Linked DNA regions of Homo sapiens: region 2 is linked to region 1. Evidence: fine-mapped expression QTL. A gene starts in region 1. The other region holds a variant in brackets. All regions are shown on one strand. Distances are between the middles of the regions. Region 1 holds the start of USP10 (ubiquitin specific peptidase 10). Region 2 overlaps USP10 (ubiquitin specific peptidase 10).

The links.
Region 2: its variant is fine-mapped to the expression of USP10 in whole blood (TOPMed, PIP above 0.99).

The regions. Positions count from the first base shown.
Region 1 is chr16:84,693,133-84,703,736 of GRCh38, reverse strand. USP10 (ubiquitin specific peptidase 10) reads right to left here and starts at 3,737. Exons shown (of 14, transcript NM_005153.3): 1 at 3,626-3,737. The coding sequence starts at 3,646. RefSeq lists silencers at 3,166-3,275, 3,316-3,425, 3,436-3,655, 3,746-4,265.
Region 2 is chr16:84,757,966-84,768,569 of GRCh38, reverse strand. USP10 (ubiquitin specific peptidase 10) reads right to left here. Exons shown (of 14, transcript NM_005153.3): 5 at 9,763-9,854; 6 at 9,098-9,207; 7 at 8,624-8,679; 8 at 8,295-8,398; 9 at 5,482-5,581; 10 at 4,307-4,484; 11 at 212-377. Among named protein-coding and RNA genes, the nearest start is that of CRISPLD2, 57 kb to the left of the region's middle. RefSeq lists a silencer at 7,353-7,647. The variant T/C (reference allele first, on the strand shown) is at 5,422.

The sequences.
Region 1 (10,604 bases):
AACCACTAAGGTGACCACTGGCTCACAAACTTAAAACATCTACTCTTAGGACATGTTTAAATAGCTTGCTGTCACTATGCAAAGGAAAACTGTTATCTCCAAATGCCCTGTCAACATTTCAAACAATTGTATTTACTTCAGCTGCTCATTACTTGAGATTCTAATAAAAATGTATCTCTTTTAAGAATTAACACTAATCCAGCTGTTGGCTAGAAACAGATATTCAGCAATACAGTAACATTCAGCCATATGCTAGAGGGGGAATCCAAGACTTTCCATCATGTAAAATGTGGAGGATCTGCTATTACAAGCTAAAAAAGAGACTGGGGTGAGTCTATGCAGAGACAAGGACAGAAGCCAACTGCATGACATTCAAATTGGGTGTAGGAAGCATTATTGTGGAGATTTCACTATAAATGACATCAATAATCACAAATATTTTTTCGGTGTAAGGCAAAACTAATAGCTTCAAATTAATTACCCCAAATAATTTAACCGGTCCCCTCAGTGACAAGGATATTCACTTGGACCTACACTTCAACTGTTAAAGTTCATTTATTTGTCTTTGCTAAAATGCTGAGTTACCGGTCTCAAAATGTTTCCAAATTCTTCACTATTACACTTCAATACAGGTAACAGGGATCAACCAACACTTTCTAATATTTGGAAATAAGGTTATTAACCTATAAACTTTTTTATTTATTTTGAGATGGAGTTTCGCTCTTTTTTTTTTTTTTTTTTTTGAGACGGGAGTCTTGCTCTGTCGCCCAGGCTGGAGTGCAGTGGCATGATCTCGGCTCACTGCAACCTCCGCCTCCCGGGTTCAAGCGATTCTCCTGCCTCAGCCTCCCAAGTACCTGGGACTACAGGCGAGCTTCACCACACTCGGCTAATTTTTGTATTTTTAGTAGAGACAGGGTCTCACTATATTGGTCAGGCTGATCTCGAACCCCTGACCTCAAGTGATCCACCCACCTGCGCCTCCCAAAGTGCTGGGATTACAGGCACGAGCCACCGCGCTGGCCTGTAAACATTTTTAAACTGTAACTTTTTCCACCTCCCATTATTCTCAGTGACAAATTTAACTTTAACAAGTCAATTTTAAAATAAGACCTTCAATTTGCAGTTGTTATTCCCAACATAAACAAGTAATATACATACCATGACGCTTAATATCTGATAAACAATCAGTATTTGCTGAATGAATGAATGGCCATTAAGGCTGCAAGACTCTTAGGACAGTAGGCAACCAAGTAAAACAAATTTATTAAAACGCTCAGAATGACTGGAGCAGGAACCAGTAACTAAATCCTGTCATACATGATTCCATTACTTGTTTGCATTACTATTCTTTTAAAATGAAAATTATGAGAAATCGGCCAGGCGCAGTAGTGGCTCACGCCTATAATCCCAGCACTTTGAGAGGCCGAGGCGGGTGGATCACCTGAGCTCAGGAGTTTGAGACCAGCCTGATCAACATGGTGAAACCCGTCTTTAATAAAAATACAAAAAATTAGCCAGGCATGGTGGTGGGCGCCTGTAATCCCAGCTACTTGGGAGGCTGAGGCAGGAGAATCGCTTGAACCCGGGAGGCAGAGGTTGCAGTGGGCCGAGATCATGCCACTGCACTCCAGCCTGGGCGACAGAGCAAGACTCCCGTCTCAAAAAAAAAAAAAAAAAAAAAAAAAAAAGAGCGAAACTCCATCTCAAAATAAATAAAAAAGTTTATAGGTTAATAACCACAGCACTCCAGCCTGGGCAACAAGAGCCAAATTCCAACTCAAAAAAAAAAAAAAAAAGAAGAAGAAAATTATGAGAAATCAAACTATTTCCTTTGCTACTTTCTCCATGCTAAAACTTAAAAGCATTTAAATCATACTTTAAAAGAATAAACCCAAAGTGTTGCTAACATTTACGTTCCGCCAACTTTTGCTACTCCAATTTTCTAAAGATGTGTATAACGCTTTAGACTGTTGTATAAAACGTAAATACTGGGACAATGAATGCAAACGAAATTACAATTAAGTTTACATATTATCCATCCCCATTAATTAACATTTCAATCAACCTTGAATTGTGATTGATGCTTATTAAATAAAGGAAGTGAGCTATGCCTAAAGATGCTTTCTTCATGTCAAAATCACAAGGAATATTACACATTAATTCATAATGAGCCTTTTACTTGTTCATACCAATTCTAATAAGCTAGTTAATTAGGATTTAAGTTGAGAAAAAAGCAAATATCAAATCTTTTTTTTTAACAGAAAGGTCTAAACAAAGCTAAATACACCAAATCTCTTAAAATCTTTGGGCTATACATTTGTAAAAATTATTCAACTACTGATCCCTTTTTTGGCGCAAAGACCTACACTACTTACAAAAGTAAATGAATAAGGGAACAAAACGTTAAAGGGGGAAATTCTGATGCAAACTAAACTACAGCTAATTTAACAAAATTGAAGCTTGTCGTAAGATCTAATTTTTTAAAAAGTTTTCGCATTTTAGATTCCACAACACGCATTCATTACAATAGTTCCGAAAATCATGTTTCAAAAGAGGTGTAGTCAGATTGACTTCATCTGCAGAAGGGCAACAAAACCCAATTGCTCATGAAGGGTTATGATTTTACTCGCAATCAGTTTCCCGAATGGCTACTTTGTTTCATTTCCCCATATTTAATACAAATACACAATGAGATGGTTTAAAAGTGTGCAACAATTTATAGGGACCAGATGTCAACAAATTAGCAGTCTAAAGCAAGGCTGACAAATAATACATCATGCCGATTTTTGTCCAGAATAATTATAATGGCGGAGGGGGGAGAAGATGTGAGAGAAGGGGTGGGAGAGGGGAATAAGAGCTTAACTCTACACGCACATCTCCCAAAAAGAGCTCTTTCTTTCCACCACGGGATTATTGTAAAGGGCCCCCAAGCTTTAGCTACTGTTCAGGCAGGGTGCGTTAGTTGTCAGCCTGGCTGGGATGGATTCGTGCAAGGGATGTCACTCAAACGCAAGTGAAAGTACGGTCCTTGCGACTTATTTCGAGTTTTCTTTGCAACAGCAGCCCAAGGCCGCTACTCTGCTACTTCTATCTAAAAAACAGAAAATCGGCAACCCCCGCATCATCAATCAAGCTGAGAAAGGAAGCTCTTGGGGCAAAGGGGCAACAGGGCACCCCCAAATCTCTGAGGCTCGCTCCAGGCAGAGGCAGCAACCTGAGCTGCTCTGGGGCCCCTGCGCTCCAGGGGACTCCCGGAGCCCCCGGGCCGCCTCCCCCGGCCGGCGCGGCGGGGAGGGCCCCACTCCACACCCCGGGCTCGCCCCGCGGTCCAGCCCCAGGGAGGTTAACCCCTTCGGCGCCCTCCACGCCCTCCCCAAGCGGGGCCCGGAGCCCCCGCCCTTCGACCTCCCCGGGACTAGGGGGTCCGGGTGGCTCAGGGGACGAAGGCGCGGCGGGCGCGGAGGCGGCGGGTGGCTCCGGCCTAGGCCCGGGCAGCGTGTCCCAGCGCCCTCCCCCACTCCCACACGCTCGCTCCGGGCAGGGCGCGGACGCCCGCCCGCCGCGGCGTCCGCCCGCCCGGGGCTCGGGCCCCTTCCGGCCGAAGGCGCAGACCGGCGGCTACCTGCGGGCTGTGGAGGGCCATGGCTGCCCGTTTCATTGGGACTCCGCGATCCTCCGGCTGCTCACGCTGCTTCCCCCGCCGCCGCCATCTTCTCGCCCGCACATACACACTCGCATCGGCCGCCGCGCCTGCGCACTGGCCGCGCGCCGCGGGGCGCGGGGAGGCCGGCCCGCTGCTGCGCCTGCGCGGCCGACAGGTGGGCGTGCGCCTGCCGGGCCGCGGACATCCCCTGCCCCGCCTGGAGCCTGCCGGACTCTGAGCCCCGCGACCCTCGGGCGGAAGCGGCCGGGCGGCTGCACACCAGGAGCCCGCCGAGGCCTGGCTGTGGATCCGGAAGGGGAGAGGGCAGGCAGGTAGAGGTGGCAACGCCAAGGCGCCGGCGGGCCCGGCTCCTCACCTACTGGGGGCCACCTGGGCCCCCGGAGCCCGGGAGTCGCGGGCTGAGGTCGGCCTGGGGCCCACGAGCCGCCCTCAGCGTACCTGGGCCCGGGCCTCGGGAGTGTTCGCATTAGATCCCCGAGGAGGGTCTGGTTTATGAAGATCCCGTTGCCGCGCATTCATTCATTTGTTCACTCTTCATTCACTCCCCAAGTCCTGCCTGGGCGCCTGGGCCACGCCTTTGGCTAGGCATTAGGGGAAAAAAGCAAAACAGACAAAAACAAAACGTAGGGCATAAAAGCACGCGTAAAGTGCTTGACATGAGGCCTGGCAAGTAGCAAACACTCAGCAAGTGCTACGTGTTGCACACGTGCGTGCGTGTGCACGGGCAAACCAGCCTTGGGGGTCGTTGGTTCATTCATTATTAAGAAACAGGGGCCCCTGCCTAACTGCACTGTTTTCCAGCCAGTGGGTCCACCCTTGGGTTTTGGCCCCTTTTCTAGCTGTGATTTCAGACAAGCGACTTTCCTTCCCTAAGCCTTGGTTTCCTCACCTGTGAATAAGACAAATATGTCATAACGCGTAAGATTTCTGTGAGGTTCAAATTAGATTAACGTGAGCACACTGGCCAAGAGAATAGTCAATAAAAATTGGCTACTGGGATTGTTATTAATAACCATTACTATTGGTTTCATTTATTCAACAAACACCTACAGAGAGTCTGCTCTTGCTAGACCGTACACTGAGCAGAGGAGATGAACAGGAAGATCCATTCCCACGTTACATAAAATAGGGAGCCTGGTCTCTTCATAAATGGGATGCCATGAAAAATATAAGTGGGCCAGGCGCAGCGGCTCACACCCGGAATCCCACACATTGGGAGGCCGAGGCGGGCGGATCACTTGAAGTCAGGAGTTGGAGACCAGCCTGGCTAATATGATGAAACCCCAACTCTACTAAAAATACAAAAATTGGTGGGATGTAGTGTGGCACACCAGGCGTCCCAGCTACTCAGGAGGCTGAGGTGGGAGGATCACTTGAACCCCGGAGACGGAGGTTGCGGTGAGCCGAGATCGTGCCACTGCACTCCAGCCTGGGTGACAGAGCGAGTCTCTGTCTCAAAAAAAAAAAAAGAAAGAAAGAAAGAAAGAAAAGAAAAGAAAAATATAAGTGGTAGGGAGGGGTTGTTCCAAAATAGAAGAGCTAGAAAACATAACCAAATACAATGTGTCATCTTGCTTGGATCCTGATATGTCTTTTAAGCTGGTTTTACTATTTGTTGACAATTGGAGACATTTGAATATGGATTGGATATGGGTGATCTTCGTGAATTATTGGTAATTTTATAGTGTAATAATTATACTGTGCTCACTGAGAGAATGTCCTTATTGTGAGGAGATGCATTCTGAAGAGTTGAGGAGTGAAGGCCATAATGCCTGTAAACTATTGTTTAATGGTTCAACAAAAGATAAAATCATGTACACACATAAACATTCAGGGAGAGACAGCAAATATGGCAAAATGTTTACTATTGTTGGCTCTAAGTAGTGCTATATATTTCAGCTTTTCTCTATGTTTGAAAATTTTTATAACAAAAAATTGGGGAAAACAATACAATATAGTGTCTGTGCTATAATTTTAACCATGGAAAAGCGATATCTGCACTTGGATAGAAACTGGGGGACGTGAAAACTCACTAGTGATTTATGGTTGTCTCTCTGGCTCGGTGCGGTGGCTCACACCTGTAATCTCAGCACTTTGGAAGGCTGAGGTGGGTGGATCACCTGAGGTCGGGAGTTCAAGACCAGCCTGATCAACATGGTGAAGCCCCGTCTCTACTAAAAATACAAAAATTAGTCGGGCGTGGTGGCAGGCGCCTGTAATCCCAGCTACTCAGGAGGCTGAGGCAGAAGAATCGCTTGAACCCGGGAGGCAGAGGTTGCAGTGAGCCGAGATGGCACCATTGCACTCCAGCCTGGACAACAAGAGTGAAACTCTGTCTCAAAAAAAAAAAAAAAAAAAAACATATATATATATATATATATATATATATATATATATATATATATATAGTTGTTTGTCTGATTTTTATCATACAGTTGCTTGAACAACAAATAAAAGTGATAATAAACAAAAGATCCCAGGCCAGGCACGGTGGCTCACGCCTGTAATCCCAGCACTTTGGGAGGCTGAGGCGGGTGGATCACCTGAGGTCAAAAGTTCGAGACTAGCCTGGCCAACATGGTGAAACCCCGTCTCTACTAAAAATACAAAAATTAGCTGGGCATGGTGGCGGGCACCTGTAATCCCAGCTACCTGGGGGGCCTAGGCAGGAAAATTGCTTGAACCCGGGAGGCGGAGGTTGCAGTGAGCTGAGATCACACCATCTCACTCCAGCCTGGGGGACAAAAGTGAGACTTTGTCTCACAAATAAATAAATATATAAATAAATAAATAAAAAAGATCCCAGTCTTCATTTTCAAATAATTCACATAGATATGAACACATACCTTCAGTACAAGGAAATAGATGTTAAAAGGAAGCTATGAACAAGCACTATGGCCTTCAGTGCTTAGCAGAGCCTGGTGATATACTTCGGCTGTGTCCCCACCCAAATCTCATCTTGGATTGTAATAATCCCCACGTGTCAAGAGTGGGGCCACGTGGTGATAATTGAATCATTGGCGTGGTTTTCCCCATACTGTTCTCATGGTAGTGAGTAAGTCTCACAAGATCTAATGTTTGTGTGTGTGTGTGTGTGTGTGTGTGTGTGTGTGGTTTTTTTGGTTTGTTTGGTTGTTTTTTTGTTTTTGTTTTTGTTTTTGTTTTTGAGACAGTCTTGCTCTGTCGCCCAGGCTGGAGTGCAGTGGCAGGATCTCAGCTCACCGTAACCTCCGCCTTCTGGGTTCAAGTGATTCTCCTGCCTCAGCTTCTGGAGTAGCTGGGACTACAGGCATGTGACACCACGCCCGGCTAATTTTCGTATTTTTAGTAGAGATGGGGTTTCACCATGATGGCCAGGCTGGTCTTGAACTCCTGACCTCAAGTGATCTGCCCACGTCAGCCTCCCAAAGTGCTGGGAATACAGGCGTGAGCCACCACGCCCAGCCTCTAATGGTTTTACAAATGAGAGTTCCCCTGCACAAGCTCTCTTGCCTGCCGCCATGTTAAGCGTGACTTTGCTCCTCATTTGCCTTCCGCCATGATTGTGAGGCCTCCCTTGCCATGTGGAACTGTGAGTCAATTAAACCTCTTTGCTTTATAAATTACCTAGCTTGGGTATGTATGTCTTTATTAGCAGCATGACAACCGACTAATACACCTGGTATCTCCCATGAGTCTGGGGACAGTGGCCTAGGCCTGGAGTCAAGACAGGCCCAAGTTCAAATCTGGAATCCCCCACTCACTAGCTGTGTGAACCTGGGCAAGTTACCTACATTTTCTGTGAATCTTTTGTAGAAGGTGGTGTGATGGGCAGAATAATGCCCCTCCCCTCAAAGATGTCCATGCCCCAACCTCAGAACCTGTGGATATATTACTTTACATGGTAAAAGGAACATTGCAAATGTGGTAATGTTAAAGGCTTTGAGATGGATTATCCTGGGAAATAACCTAATTATGACATGACTGGTGGGTCCCAAGTAATCACAAGGGTCCTTATGAGGGAAAGAAGGAGGGGCAAGAGAGTCAGGTCACAAGGAGATGTGAAAATAGAAGCAGAAAGAGAGAGGGAGAGATTTGAAGATGCTGCGCTGCTGGTGCCACGAGCCAAGGAATGTGGGTGGCCTCTAGGAGCTGGAAAAGGGCAAACATTTTCTGCTAGTGCTGCCAGAAGGAACATAGCCTTGCTTACAGCTTGATTTAGCCCCGTGAGTCTTCTGAGCTACAGAACTTTAAAACAAAAAACTTGTGTTGATTTAAGCCGGTAAATTTTGTTCCAGCAACAATAGGAAACTATGACAGGGGAAGCAACACTACCTGTTCTATAAGCCTGTTGCTAGGAGGAGATGAAGTAATGGAGCTAGCACATGGAGTGTGCTGCCTGGTGCTTTTATTTTTTTATTTTTTTGAGACGGAATTTCACTTTGTCGCCCAGGCTGGAGTACAGTGGCATGATCTCAGCTCGCTGCAACCTCCGCCTCCAGGGTTCAAACGATTCTTCTGCCTCAGCCTCCCAAGTAGCCGAGATTGCAGGCATGCACCACCATGCCCAGCTAATTTTTGTATTTTTAGTAGAGACAGCGTTTCACTCTGTTGGCCAGGCTGGTCTCAAACTCCTGACCTCAGGTGATCCACCCGCCTCGGCATCCCAAAATGCTGAGATTACAGGCATGAGCCACCATGCCCGGTGCCTGGTGCTTTTAAACTACCATTCAACAAATGGTAAGTGAGTTTTCTCATTGTCCAGTTTGGGCATAAGGCTTCCCCAAGGAGGTAACATTTGAGCTAGATCTTGATGAGTAGGTGTTTCCCAAGAGTTCTTTTCTGGAACTCTGAAAGTATATAGGAGTGCCACTAACTGTGTGGCCTTAAGCAAGTAACTAGTGTCTCTGGACCTCAGTTTCCTCATCTGCAAAATGGGAGAAATAATACCTCCCAGGGATATCGTGAAAAGGAGAATAAGATAACAGAGGCAAATTGCTTAGCAAAATGTCCGGCATACAGCAAGGGCTTAATAAATGGTGAAAATTGTCATTATTACTCCCAGAGTTCTTAGAAGGGAAAGTGAGGTTTGCACAGGAAGGGCTCAGTGCATTTGACAGCATTTATTGCCAATTATAAAATTCAAGCTTTCTTTCAAACAAAAATTAGAATTTGGAGACACTTGTATCCACCATTGTGAGATGGACAGCTACCCAATTCTTAAAGACTTTTCTGATAAGATTGGTGGTGATAGTAATAAATGTAACTTTTTTTCAACTTTTAGATTCAGGAGGTACATGTGCAGGTTTGTTACCTGGGTATACTGCATGATGCTGAGATTTGGGGTAGGAATGATCTCGCCCCCCAGGTACTGAGCATAGTACCCACTGTTAGTTGTTCAACGCTTGCCCCCCTCCCTCCCTTCCCCCTCTAGTAGTCGCTAGTGTCTATTGTTGCCATCTTTATGTCTGTAATTAAAAAAAAAAAATAGAATAGAATGCGTCAACATTTGGAAGATCTGCATAACTCAGCGAATCAATGTTTTCCAAATGACTGATGTTATAAAATTGCACATGAGTAAAAGATCCATTCAAAGTACAAGATAGGACAGTGGGGCCAGACACAATGGCTAATGCTTGTAATCCGAGGCTGGTCTCAAACTCCTGAGCTCAAGCAATCCTTTCTCCTCAGTCTCCCACAGTGCTGGGATTACAGGTGTGAGCCACTGCTCCTGGCCCAGACTTTTTAAAAATTTGTAAAAATACAAAATAATGCCACTCCTCTCACCAAAATGTTTTGTTTTGGAGTATAGTTGTTTTTCACTAAAATGATGTTATTTATGTTAACATTTAATGAAAGTATTATATTTTAAATAAATTGTTATTATTTTGTAATGTTTTAGTTTTTACTTCTAATATGGTAAACCACAACAGATACAACCTCTGTCTCCTGTGTTCAAGCGATTCTCCTGCCTCGGCCTCCTGAATAGCTGGGATTACAGGTGCGTGAGCCACCACGCCCGGCTAGTTTTTGTATTTTTAGTAGAGATAGGGTTTCACCATGTTGGTCAGGCTGGTCTCGAACTCCTGACCTCGTGATCCTCCCACCTCGGCCTCCCAAAGTGCTGGAATTACAGGCGTGAGCCACCGCACTGGCTCTTTTTTTTTTTTTTTTTTTCTCATTTAATTCTTTAGCTTTGCCAACAGGAGGTCAGCCAACAATAATTTTTAAGAATGTGAAGAGATCAGCGACCAAGAAGTTTGAGAACTCCAGCTCTCCCGTGCCAGCAAGTGCCCACTTTAAATGTGCCCTCTGTCTGCCTGGAACTTTCCCCAGGGAGGCTCAACCCTTCATTCACTCAGGTTTCTGTTAATGGTCGTCTCTTCCTAAAGGACCCTCCTCACTCCTTTGCCCATAATGGGTGCCCCACCCTGTGCCCTCCTGCTATCCAGGTTAATTTCCCACAGCACTCACAAACTTTCTTTCAAACAAAAATTAGAATTTGGGGAAACTTGTAGCTGACATTTGGGGAAACTAGCTGACATTCTATGGCATATTAATTTTGTGTGTTTATTGTCTTTTTCTTCCACTAGAATCAGGCCTGGCGCAGTGGCTCATGCCTGTAATCCCAGTACTTTGGGAGGCTAAGGCAGGTGGATCACTTAAGCCCAGGAGTTCAAGACTAGCCTGGCTAACATGGCAAAACACCGTCCGTCTCTACTAAAAAATACAAAAATCCACTGGACATGGTGGCAGGTACCTGTAATCCCAGCTACTCAGGAGGCTGAGGCAGGAGGATTGCTTGAACCTGGGGGGTGGAGGTTGCAGTGAGCCGAGATCATACCACTCCACTCCAGTATGGGTAACAGAGCAACTGTCTCAAAATAATAATAATAATAATAAAAAATATAAGCTCCATGAAGCCAGGTACTTGGTCTTGTGTTCTGATATTTTTGCA
Region 2 (10,604 bases), 65 kb before region 1:
TTGTGTAATATGATTTAGAGCTAAAAGAGGCCCTTGGGATCACGTTTCAACCATTTCATTGTAAAACCATAAAAACTTTCAGTACAAAATGGTTAAGCAACTGATTTAAGAGGCATAACTCAAACCCATTTCCCCTCATTCCTAATTTTGTGTTCTTTCCACCAAACCAGAGCACCTTAGTAGAAAGGTTCAAAATCAAGTGTGAACATACCTCTTGTTTGGTTTTTGTGGTATAACCTTGGACAGATTCTCTTGCCACCAAGCTCTCCAGTGCATCCTGGACTGTGCGTATCTTGTCTGACTGGATATCCAACTGCAACGTGAAAAATGGCTGCAAAGTGGCAGATTCTTTTGAACTCTGCTGGTAAACCACAGACCTAAGAATTGAAAGCAAAAACAAAAAAATTAAGAGACCACTCCTTGCCACTTTCCCTTAAGATTAACCAAGGGAATAAACACTGAAAATAAGATTATTCAATATCACTTTCAAAAGACCACAGAGAAAAGCCAAAAATATACTGAATTTAAAAATAATTCTGCTGAAGATGTGCTTTGTTAAACAGATGCTTGAAGGCAGCATGCTCGTTAAGAGTCATCACCAATCCCTGATCTCAAGTAATCAGGGACACAAACACTGCGGAAGGCCGCAGGGTCCTCTGCCTAGGAAAACCAGAGACCTTTGTTCACTTGTTTGTCTGCTGACCTTCCCTCCACTATTGTCCCATGACCCTGCCAAATCCCCCTCTGTGAGAAACACCCAAGAATTATCAATAAAAAAATAAATTAAAAAAAATAATAATAATTCTGCTGAATAGCACCTCCTTAGTATTTCTAACAACTAAATCTACCAGTTGATAAATGTTCCCAACGCCAGTGCTCTGGAAGAAAACATATTTCATTTTCCAAATTCTTTCACTTCCTCTCCACACTGTTATTTACTGCACCGGTTCATAAAGGCAGCCACCCTGCCATGGCCTCAAAACGCTGCTGCTTTCCATTTTCTCCAAGTATCATAGCCTGTTCTAATAAAATAGAGGAAATCCCAAGGTAAATAGAGGATTTTTAATGGCATTTTCCTCCTATAAAGATGTCTTACAAAAAGAAGAAGGGGAGTAGGGTGTGTAGAATAAAAAACAAGTTAACATTCCAGGAAAAAAGGCTGCCACCCTTCCAAGAAGGGCGCCAATTTGACCTTGTTTTCTTAGCTGGTTTTTCATTTCATTTTTTTTTTCCTTTTTCTAAGTTTTTCTGAGTAAAAATTGTGTGTTCGGCCCATCTCTCATTTAGCCTCAGCAAGGAAACATTCCAGGGGTTCAACAAGGGCTTCTATTTCTGCAGTCTCGGTGACCTAGTTTCTCAACGGAATAAAATGGGTGTGGACAGGTACTCAGGCTTTCCAGAACAGATGCGGTGAAGAGCTCGCTAAAAGCTTTTCTGTCCAGGGTTTAATTACGCATCTCCATGCTCCTTTACAGTTTGAAGACTTCAGTGACAACAGTTCCCCTGGTTCTGGAGAGGGATACAGTAGTGGGGAAACCGCTCATGAGAGCTGGTGGAGAATCAAGAAGCCCTCTTGATTCAGTGGTCCTGTGTTTTAGCAAAGGTGGCACCGGGGAAGAAAGGCGGGGAAGTCTTCCTGGGGAAACTGAAAAACATCTGAAGAGGCTGAGTTTTAGAAGTAAATCTTTCAATTGGTGTGAATAAAGAATCATGCTTAACAATGGCTGAAAAGAAGTTCCTACGTTGTAAGAATTCCCTATCTTTGCTTTACCGTTTTTCAAAAAGAAACATCAACAACCAATTTCAACACAGAGACCCCTCAGAGGATGTGGCTAGCAGCTGTGACAGAGCTGTTCAATCTGAGCCAGCAAGTCCTCCAAATGGACGCTGGTATTTTCCACTGGTTACTCTTAGACAAATTTGGGATCTTTGAGTATGCTGACCCTCTGTGGCCTTGAAATTCTGATACCCGGCCTCTGCACAAAAACCATGTTCCCGATGCCTCCATTTGAGCTGTCCATTCATCTTTCTCTCCCATCCCGAGGGGGTGTCCTCACAATCCTAAACCAGGCTGCTGGGCTGAAGGAGCAAAGGGCACAGCCTTCCCTCGCTGCTGCGCGCCAACCTGGACCTCAGCGTCTCCCTCCCAACACGACGTGTCCCAAGGAACCACAGACAGTGGTCAGGGCTGGGTGTTTCCCAGGTGACAACTGACCACCCAGCTGCCGTGGACACTCCACAGAGCACCAGAATAGAAAGGGGCCAGTGGAATAGAGCTCACAGTGCAGAACACAGAAGTGACTTGTTCAAGGTCACATGGCTGCTCAACTGGCTTCTAAATCCACTTCCACAGAGGACGGGAAACCAGCTTCTGAGGGCGTCAGCGCAGGTTTCTGAGGTTCTTATTATTCACCTGTTGAAAGTTGTTGATTCAGTCTCAGAACTGAGACTGAATCAAGTCTTGATGCCTCAAAAGGGGTGCTCTTTCTTTCAGGTACGCAGCATTTGGGACAACAACAGACTAAGAGTGTCACTGAAATACCAGCCTGGGGGTTATGCCGCAAGGCCTCAGAAAGGAAATTAGGCTCCAATGAGGCCTCTTCAGTACTTTCGATGGGTAAACCTTCTTGGAGATGGTACAAGTTTTGCTGAATTCCACATCACAGTGGTACTGAAAAGCTCTCAGGTAAATAAAGAAAAACCTTTCCGAAGGACTTTGTGAATGAGCAAAAAGCTGCTTAAGGGAACTGGCACACAGCCAGGTGCCCAGGGACTCCAGCCCAGTCACGGGTCTGTCTGTGTAAAAAAGACCTCCCTTCACACTCTCTTCACTTTCTACCTCACCTGCTTCCAATCAGTTCACAACAGCCAAGACAGGGAAACAACTGTCTGTGGATGGGCCAATGGATAAAGAAACTGTGGTGTGTATATATAGACAAGGGAACACTATTCAGCTGTAATAAAGACCCTGCCATTTGCCACAACAGGAATGAACCTGGGGAACATTATACTAAGTTAAAGAAGTCAGACACAGAAAGAAAAATATTGCATGGTCTCACTTATACATGGAATCTTTATTAAAAAAAAAAAAAAGACGAAACTACAGAGATAGGGAAAAGAGTGGTTCCTAGGGGTGGCGAGTGGGAATGGAAGATGTCGGTCGAAGGACACCAAGGGCAGCCACACAGGCGAACAGGTCTAGAGATCTGATGTGGAACATCGGACAAGAGCTACTCATAGTGCACTGTATTTGGGACTTTTGTGAAATGAGTAAAACTGCAGCTGCTCTTGCCATGTGCACACACACACACACAAGGGTAACTGTGATGGGGAATATGTTTATCTGCTTCACTGTAGCAACTATTTTACTATCTCTATTTCATAACATCTGTGTATACTTTAAATATACACAATTTATTAACATAAATAAAATTCCTCCAGATACACTGTCTTCTCTTACCAAAACACATGGTTTGGTTAGCTGGTTTTTTTTTTTGAAGACAGTCTTGCTCTGTCACCCAGGCTGGAGTGCAGTGGTGTAATCTTGGCTCACTGCAACCTCTGCCTCCCGGAGGTGGTTTTATGTTGCAAGTTTTAAATGCAGATGAAGTCTAATATATATATATATATTTTTTTTTCTCTCTCTCTCGTGGTTATTGTTTATGACCTATCTTATGAAACCTTTGCCTACCCCTAAGTCATGATGACATTCTCCTGTATCTTTTTCTTTTTTTTTTCTTGAGACAGAGTCTCACTCTGTCACCCATGCTGGAGTGCAATGGCGCTATCTGGGCCACTGCAACCTCTGCCTCCTGGGTTCAAGCGATTCTCCTGCCTCAGCCTCCCTAATAGCTGGGATTACAGGTGCCTGTCACCACACCTGGTTGATTTTTGTATTTTTAGTAGAGACGGGGTTTCACCATGTTGATCAGGTTGATCTCGAACTTCTAACCTCAGGTGATCCACCCGCCTTGGCCTCCCAAAGTCCTGGGATTACAGGCATGAACCACCGCGTATGGCCAATTAGCTGGCTTTTCTCTTACTCCCTAGCAGTGAGCAGCTGAACTTGACAGAGTAGAAGGGAGGAGCTCCCTGTCCCCTGCAGACATGCGCCAGCAGGGAGAGAATAAGCCACGGGGGCTGACAAGGGAAGCATCAGGAAGTGCAAGAGAAGAGCAGGCAGGGGAGCAAGATGCAAACCATTACGTCCAAGAAGTCTCAAAACAAGCCTCACACCTTCCCCCTTCACCAACATGGCAAAACCCTAGAAAAGGCAAATATTAAGTTATTCCAGAAAAGCACAAACCTGATGTGTCCACCAAAAATGCCGGTGATTGGAGTCTGAACAAAATCCGCCTGGCGGGTGACGGAAGTCTTGTTCCGGGGGCCCACTTGTTCCCATTCATCCTCGCTTCCTTCACCTTGTTCTTCCTGCTCTTCTTCATTGACCGAGTGGTTTTTGGGGCCGTTGGAAATCGTAAGTTCTGAAAAGGAGAGCATCTGCTTACACTACTATTTACGACAAGAACAGCAAAAAAAAAAAAGGCACAGATCTGTCGATTGCAGTTTTAAAAATGAAATCAGGGTGTGGTCTACATTAGGAGCCACGGCAACCAATCGCAACAGGAGCAACGTCACTGGATCCACGGCCAATCGCAACAGGCACAATGTCACTGGATCCACGGCAACCAATCGCAACAGGTGCAACGTCACTGGATCCATGGCAACCAATCCCAACAGGCACAACGTCACTGGATCCACGGCAACCAATCGCAACAGGTGCAACGTCACTGGATCCACGGCAACCAATCACAACAGGCGCAATGCCACTGGATCCACTGCAACCCATTGCAATGCCACTTGATCCACGGCAACCAATCGCAACAGGTGCACCACCACTGGATCCTTGTTTACATAAACTCCTAGAAATGACATCCCTGGGACAACTGGCGAAATTTGAAGATGCTCTGCAAAGTCGGTATTACCGTGTCATTACAGTTGTTTTTCTCAGTTAGATAAGGGACTGTGGTTACGCAGGAGATGCTTTAGCACCTGAGATGAACTAAACTGTTAGCTGCAACTTAACTTTGAATCATTCAGGGAAAATGTATGCGTATGTATGTATATATGGATGGACAGATAAGACATATATATATATACACAGTGTGTGTATAGCATCAGAAAATATGTTTAAAACTGTACACTCGGCAATTATAAAGGTATTCATCAAACGATTCTTTCAGCTTTTTTATAGGCTTGATCATTTTCCTAATTAAAAGTTAAAGGAAAATGGCAGAGGTTCGGGATAAACTGTAATTTACCTAAATATAACCTTCTCGATGGTGTAAGTTATCGTAGGGAATAAATGCTATTTGAAAGGAAAACGACTGAGGGGCAGGGAAGCAACATAACATATGAGTA[T/C]GCAACACCTGTTTACAGCGAACTCTTGCACAACTCTGCGGCAAGTGGACCATAACCTACTTTCATTACTTGGTGAGAGAAGCTTCTTTAGGTTCAACATTTCCTCATGAAGTCCATTTAGAATGAAGCCTAAGTATTCCTCAGCATCTTCTTGTCGACCCTGAAAAGGTCAAATATAATCACGTTACTGTGAACTGATCACTGTCAAAGGCCTGCAGGACATGCAGTACTTGCAAAGTCCAACCATGCCTCCTCTGAAATGGAAGATGTAAAGTATTTCCAAACAATGACATGATGACATGGGTTTCCCTTGCATAGCTGAAATCCCAAGAGTAGGAGGAAAAGGAGAAACTGACTAAACACATATCTCTAAATGGGTGGACTAATGGGGATTTTTATTATTTATACTTTCTGTATTTTTGAAATTTTCTTCAATAAATATACTTTTTTTTTTTTTTGAGACAAAGTCTCATTCCGTCACCCAGGCTGGAGTGCAGTGGTGCAATCTCAGCTCAGTGCAACCTCCAGCTCCCGGGTTCAAGCGATTCTCCTGCCTCAGCCTCCCGAGTAGCTGGGACTCCAGGTGTGTGCCACCATGCCTGGCTAATCTTTGTATTTTTAGTAGAGACGGGGTTTCACCATGTCGGCCAGGCTGGTCTCAAACTCCTGACCTCAGGTGACCTGCCTGCCTTGGCTTCCCAAAGTGCTGGGATTACAGGCATGAGCCACCACACCTGGCCACATTACCTTTATCACAAAAAAGTTATTTAAAAAAAAGTTTCTGTCTTGGGTAAACAAAATAGAAGACGAAGAACTAGATGTCTAGGGCCAGTTCACTGTTCAACTGCAAGGGTCACCACTCGAGCAATGAGCTAAGCAGCCCTATGTCTGCTTCTGTCTGTCTTTGATGATGGACAACTACATGGGAAAGAACTCAAACTACATGTGGAAAAACTCCACTGATTTAGAGCGTTAGCTGTGTTACACATACATCAGCAAAATCATTCACAGACGAGTCACCCAAGAGTTTAATAATCCCACATCACGAGTGTTTGATTCTGTTACTTATCATCAGTTCATATTTCATTCTTCACAGCACAACTGCCTATTCCAAGGCCCTGCAAATTGTTCTGTTTGAAGCATCTAGGTAAACTGCAAAGTTTACTTGCCCTCTCCAGATAGTAGACGTGGACAGCAGCTGTTCACGTGAGTGCATGCTCTGCACGTGTGCAGAAAAGGGCAAAAACTGGCACAGCCAAAGTGTGCTGAAGACTTTTCATAGCAGGCCTGGGTGGCTCTCCTTGGAAAGGCCTGCTTGCAAGGTTGCCCCTTGGCTGGTGTCTGGGAATTTGGATTTCAGAAAGGTTCCCATCGGTCCAATAACTGATACGGGATTCTGCCTAAACCGTTTGCGCAAGCAATGTGCTTTCTGCTGAACACTTTGCTTTTGTTTTGGGAGTTTGGACTTTTGGTTCAAGCCAGGCAGATGGTACCTATGGGACCAGCCCTCAGTAAAAACTCTGGACACGGAGTCTGTAATGACCTTCCCTGGTTGGCAGCATTTCACGTGTGGTCACAGTCTGGTGCTGGAGTAGTTACGCGTAGCCTTGTGGCCCCACTGGGAGAGGAGTCTGGAAGTTTCCTTTAGGCCCTGCCTCACCTGTCCTTTCCCTTCCTGACTCTGCTCCGCATGCTTTTGCTGTCAGCAACCATAGCCACGGGTATACCAGCTTCTGCATTTTCTGAGTTCTTCCAGTGAATCACCCAACCTCAGGGTGGTCTTGGGGAGCCCAACACATCCCCTATTAATGTAACCTTTAGAAGATGCTTTTGTTCATAGCATTATCTCTGTGCACGATCCAAGAGGGGTTCCTGAGCACCCACTTTATTTTGCCTCCACCTGTGCTAGGTGGGCCCCTCTGGGTTCTAAGGCATCTCTGTATCTTTGTGCTTCTCTTGTTGACTATTCATTAACTCATTCCCTCACTGAGGGCAGAGGGCGCACTTCATTCCATTTCTGCATCCCTAACACCATGTTCCCATTACTTGGGAAGTGCAAATTCCAAGCCAATACCAAAAGCTGCATTATAAGCATTTAAAAAGCTTAAGACCCTATGCTACCCCTGGTGGTATCCTGCAACGATGCCCTCGACATTCACTCTTCTTCAAAGCAATGAAGCTTCAAGTAAACTTGACTTAAATGGCATTTTCTCAACTATTTTTCTCTCTGAATACATTTCCCTAAGCATCATTTCAACTGCTTGTACTGATTCATCACAAACTCAATCTGGGAGGAAAGAAATGCTCCAGTTAACGGTGCTAAGGGCGGCCCAAGTCACTCTCAACAGCCCCAGGGCCTTTTATAAGGGCTCCCTGGCCCCTTGGTCTCATGCCTTTAGTAACAAAGTATGTGATTAAAAAAAAATTAGGTAAAGGAATCAAGTACATCAAATAGCTACTAAAGCCTGTAAGTATGATGAAGACATAAGCTCTTCTGAATACTGCCATCATTCCAGGCCCAGTGCACTCCATTCTACCCCAGTGGCATATAGTGCAGTGGTTAAGAGAACTGACTTGAAAGCTGGGTTCTGCCATGTACATTAGCTACCTGACCTCAGACAGTGGCTTCACTTCTCTTAACCGTAACAAGGAGACCATAATCATACTTTATTCAGAGTCAACTAAGTTAATATATGTAAAGTACTGAGAGCAGTGCTTGGTGCACCATATCATCCAAGCAATGGACTCTTATAAACCTACATCTACTTATAGCGCTGGAGACAGAGGGCAAATATCAATAAGCAACAGTTACCACACAAACACTGGAACAAAAGGCAACACTTGATACTAGTGACAACAGAGAAGTCTCAAACCTTTTCAGACAGGCTTGACTTGTTAACTGTCAGGAGTCTGTAAATATATGTGGGCTCAAAGGCAGCTCCAGGGCGAATATCCCTCACGATTTTATCTCCAAGAGCTGCAATGGAAAGAGGACACAGGTTTTCCTAACTACAATGAACTCATAAATGATGAAAAAAGCAACATCATCAAAACTCCCCCACCTCCCACCTGGCTGAATGTTGAGAATGGCATAGGTGTAAAGACACTATCTTCCCAACAAGACTGAATTTACCAAATTTAAGTCATCTGTCTCCATAACTCCCAATATGTAATAGCATCAACAAAACTCATTTTTACTAACCTTGTCGGGGTTTTGGAGGTACTGGCATATTAGTGAACTCATTCATTAGCCGAACACTAAACATGGGGAAAAAATGTTAAATAGTGCAGTTTTAAACAATATATACTTTTACTAAAGAGCTTTGATGGCTAAGTAGAATATCAGCTATACGAGTATAGTAGATTTTAGGTAACCAATGCTGTAACAGCTAGTGAACTCAAGTCTCTTCTATATGCATTTTTGGTCTATTTCAAGTGATATATGCTGGTAAACGCTAAAATATTTTCTACTGAATCTAAAGAACACAGATCATCAATGCTCCAATTCCATTTCTGGTTAACTTCCATATAAAATCGCCAACAGTCTATTTTTAAAAAAAGACAGAATTATAGGACTCATTTGCAGGAAATCAAGAGCTTTACTAAACTATTTCAATTCTAATTATCAGACGGGAAAAACCCCACCACTTAACACATCTTTCACCACCTTACTTACAAGCTGTCTATCATGGGTGTTGACGTACAAGGCCTTTGCACTTTGGAATACAGAGGAATGAACTTCATCAGGTGGTACATCGGCGGGCAAGCAACCAATGCCTGCAGTGTCTATGTAGTGGCAGTAAGGAAGCGTAAAGGAAATGAACAGACACACCACATTTCCTGAAGGCACATGAAGCACAAGAATGTTTATAAAAACACAAGGAAGCTAAGGACGTTGAACTACTTAGATATGTCACCACGAAAAGGAATAAACCAAATAGTTACTAGGGTAAGTGTCCTGTGATGTCCATATAAGGATCTACGAAGCAGTCAGTCGTTTGTATTCAAGAACTTGACCTAACCAAGACAGTTCAATCAGTTAAAACCAAATTTCCAGTTGTAAGTGGTTGCTCTGCCCTATTATTTGTGACTATTCTAATGAGAGCCAGCTTGTCTGCAGCCCTCATTCACGTGCCAACATATCCTCTCTTTTAGAGGGAGATGGACTGGGGTCAGGAATAATCCTGTTTATAAGCAAGGTAGGCAGACCAAGTAATAAACCAGACTTAGGGATTCAAATGGAGAGCTAGATGGCCCACGGAAGCTGAGCTAAGTCACATGCACCCAAAGGAGGGACAGCTGCAACAAGCTGGCCTTGCGGACGGCGTCCAGGAAGGATACAGCATTAATGTAGCACCAGTTCCCTTTATTGATCAGCCCACGGGGTTGCAACGACACTGGTTTATGGATTAGGGTTACATTCTCCAGCAACTCTGAAAGAGTGAAGAAGCATATTTCAGAAATTGATGACATCTAGTGAAGAACATTCAAATCATTTCACATGCTCTACTCTGGGACAGCATTTAAAATCCCTTCAGTAAAACACACAGCCAAAGAAAATGCATACTGTTAAGGCTTCATTCAGTTCAACATCAAGTACATTATTCAATTAGAACATTTTTGAAACTAATCTTTTCCCTCAAATAGCAACATTTAATCTTCCTGGGGGGAACAGAATTAGGGAACACAAGAACTACCTATTTTAATGAGAAACAAAAAAATGTTAACACAGTATCATTATTAGAGAATAGATTTGAGAGATACAGCCTTTCTTCCTTAAACACCATTAGCCAGGTGTGTCTCATCAGCAGCAAGGCGCCTCAGACACTAGATAGAAAGATATCTTGCAGAACCCACGTCTCATTCCTCTCTGCATCCCCAGCATCTAATGCTGACCCTACACATCACTGTGTGTGTTCAATGGCTGTTCAGTGAGTAAAAATACTCCTTTCAGAGACAGCGGTCTCCTACAAATTAAACCGTCCACTAGAAATCCAATTTAGCAACTGTTTTATAAACTGTAATTCCCTTATTCCATTTACAAACACGCTGCTCAGCCTCAGGTTCACCCTGAGTGGACATCACTCTTTCTGTGTATTAAAACAGCTGTGAATGCCATCTTTATAGAATTAACCATCAGAAATGCTTGAAAACAAGACAAGGTCTCCCCCTGTCCCACTATG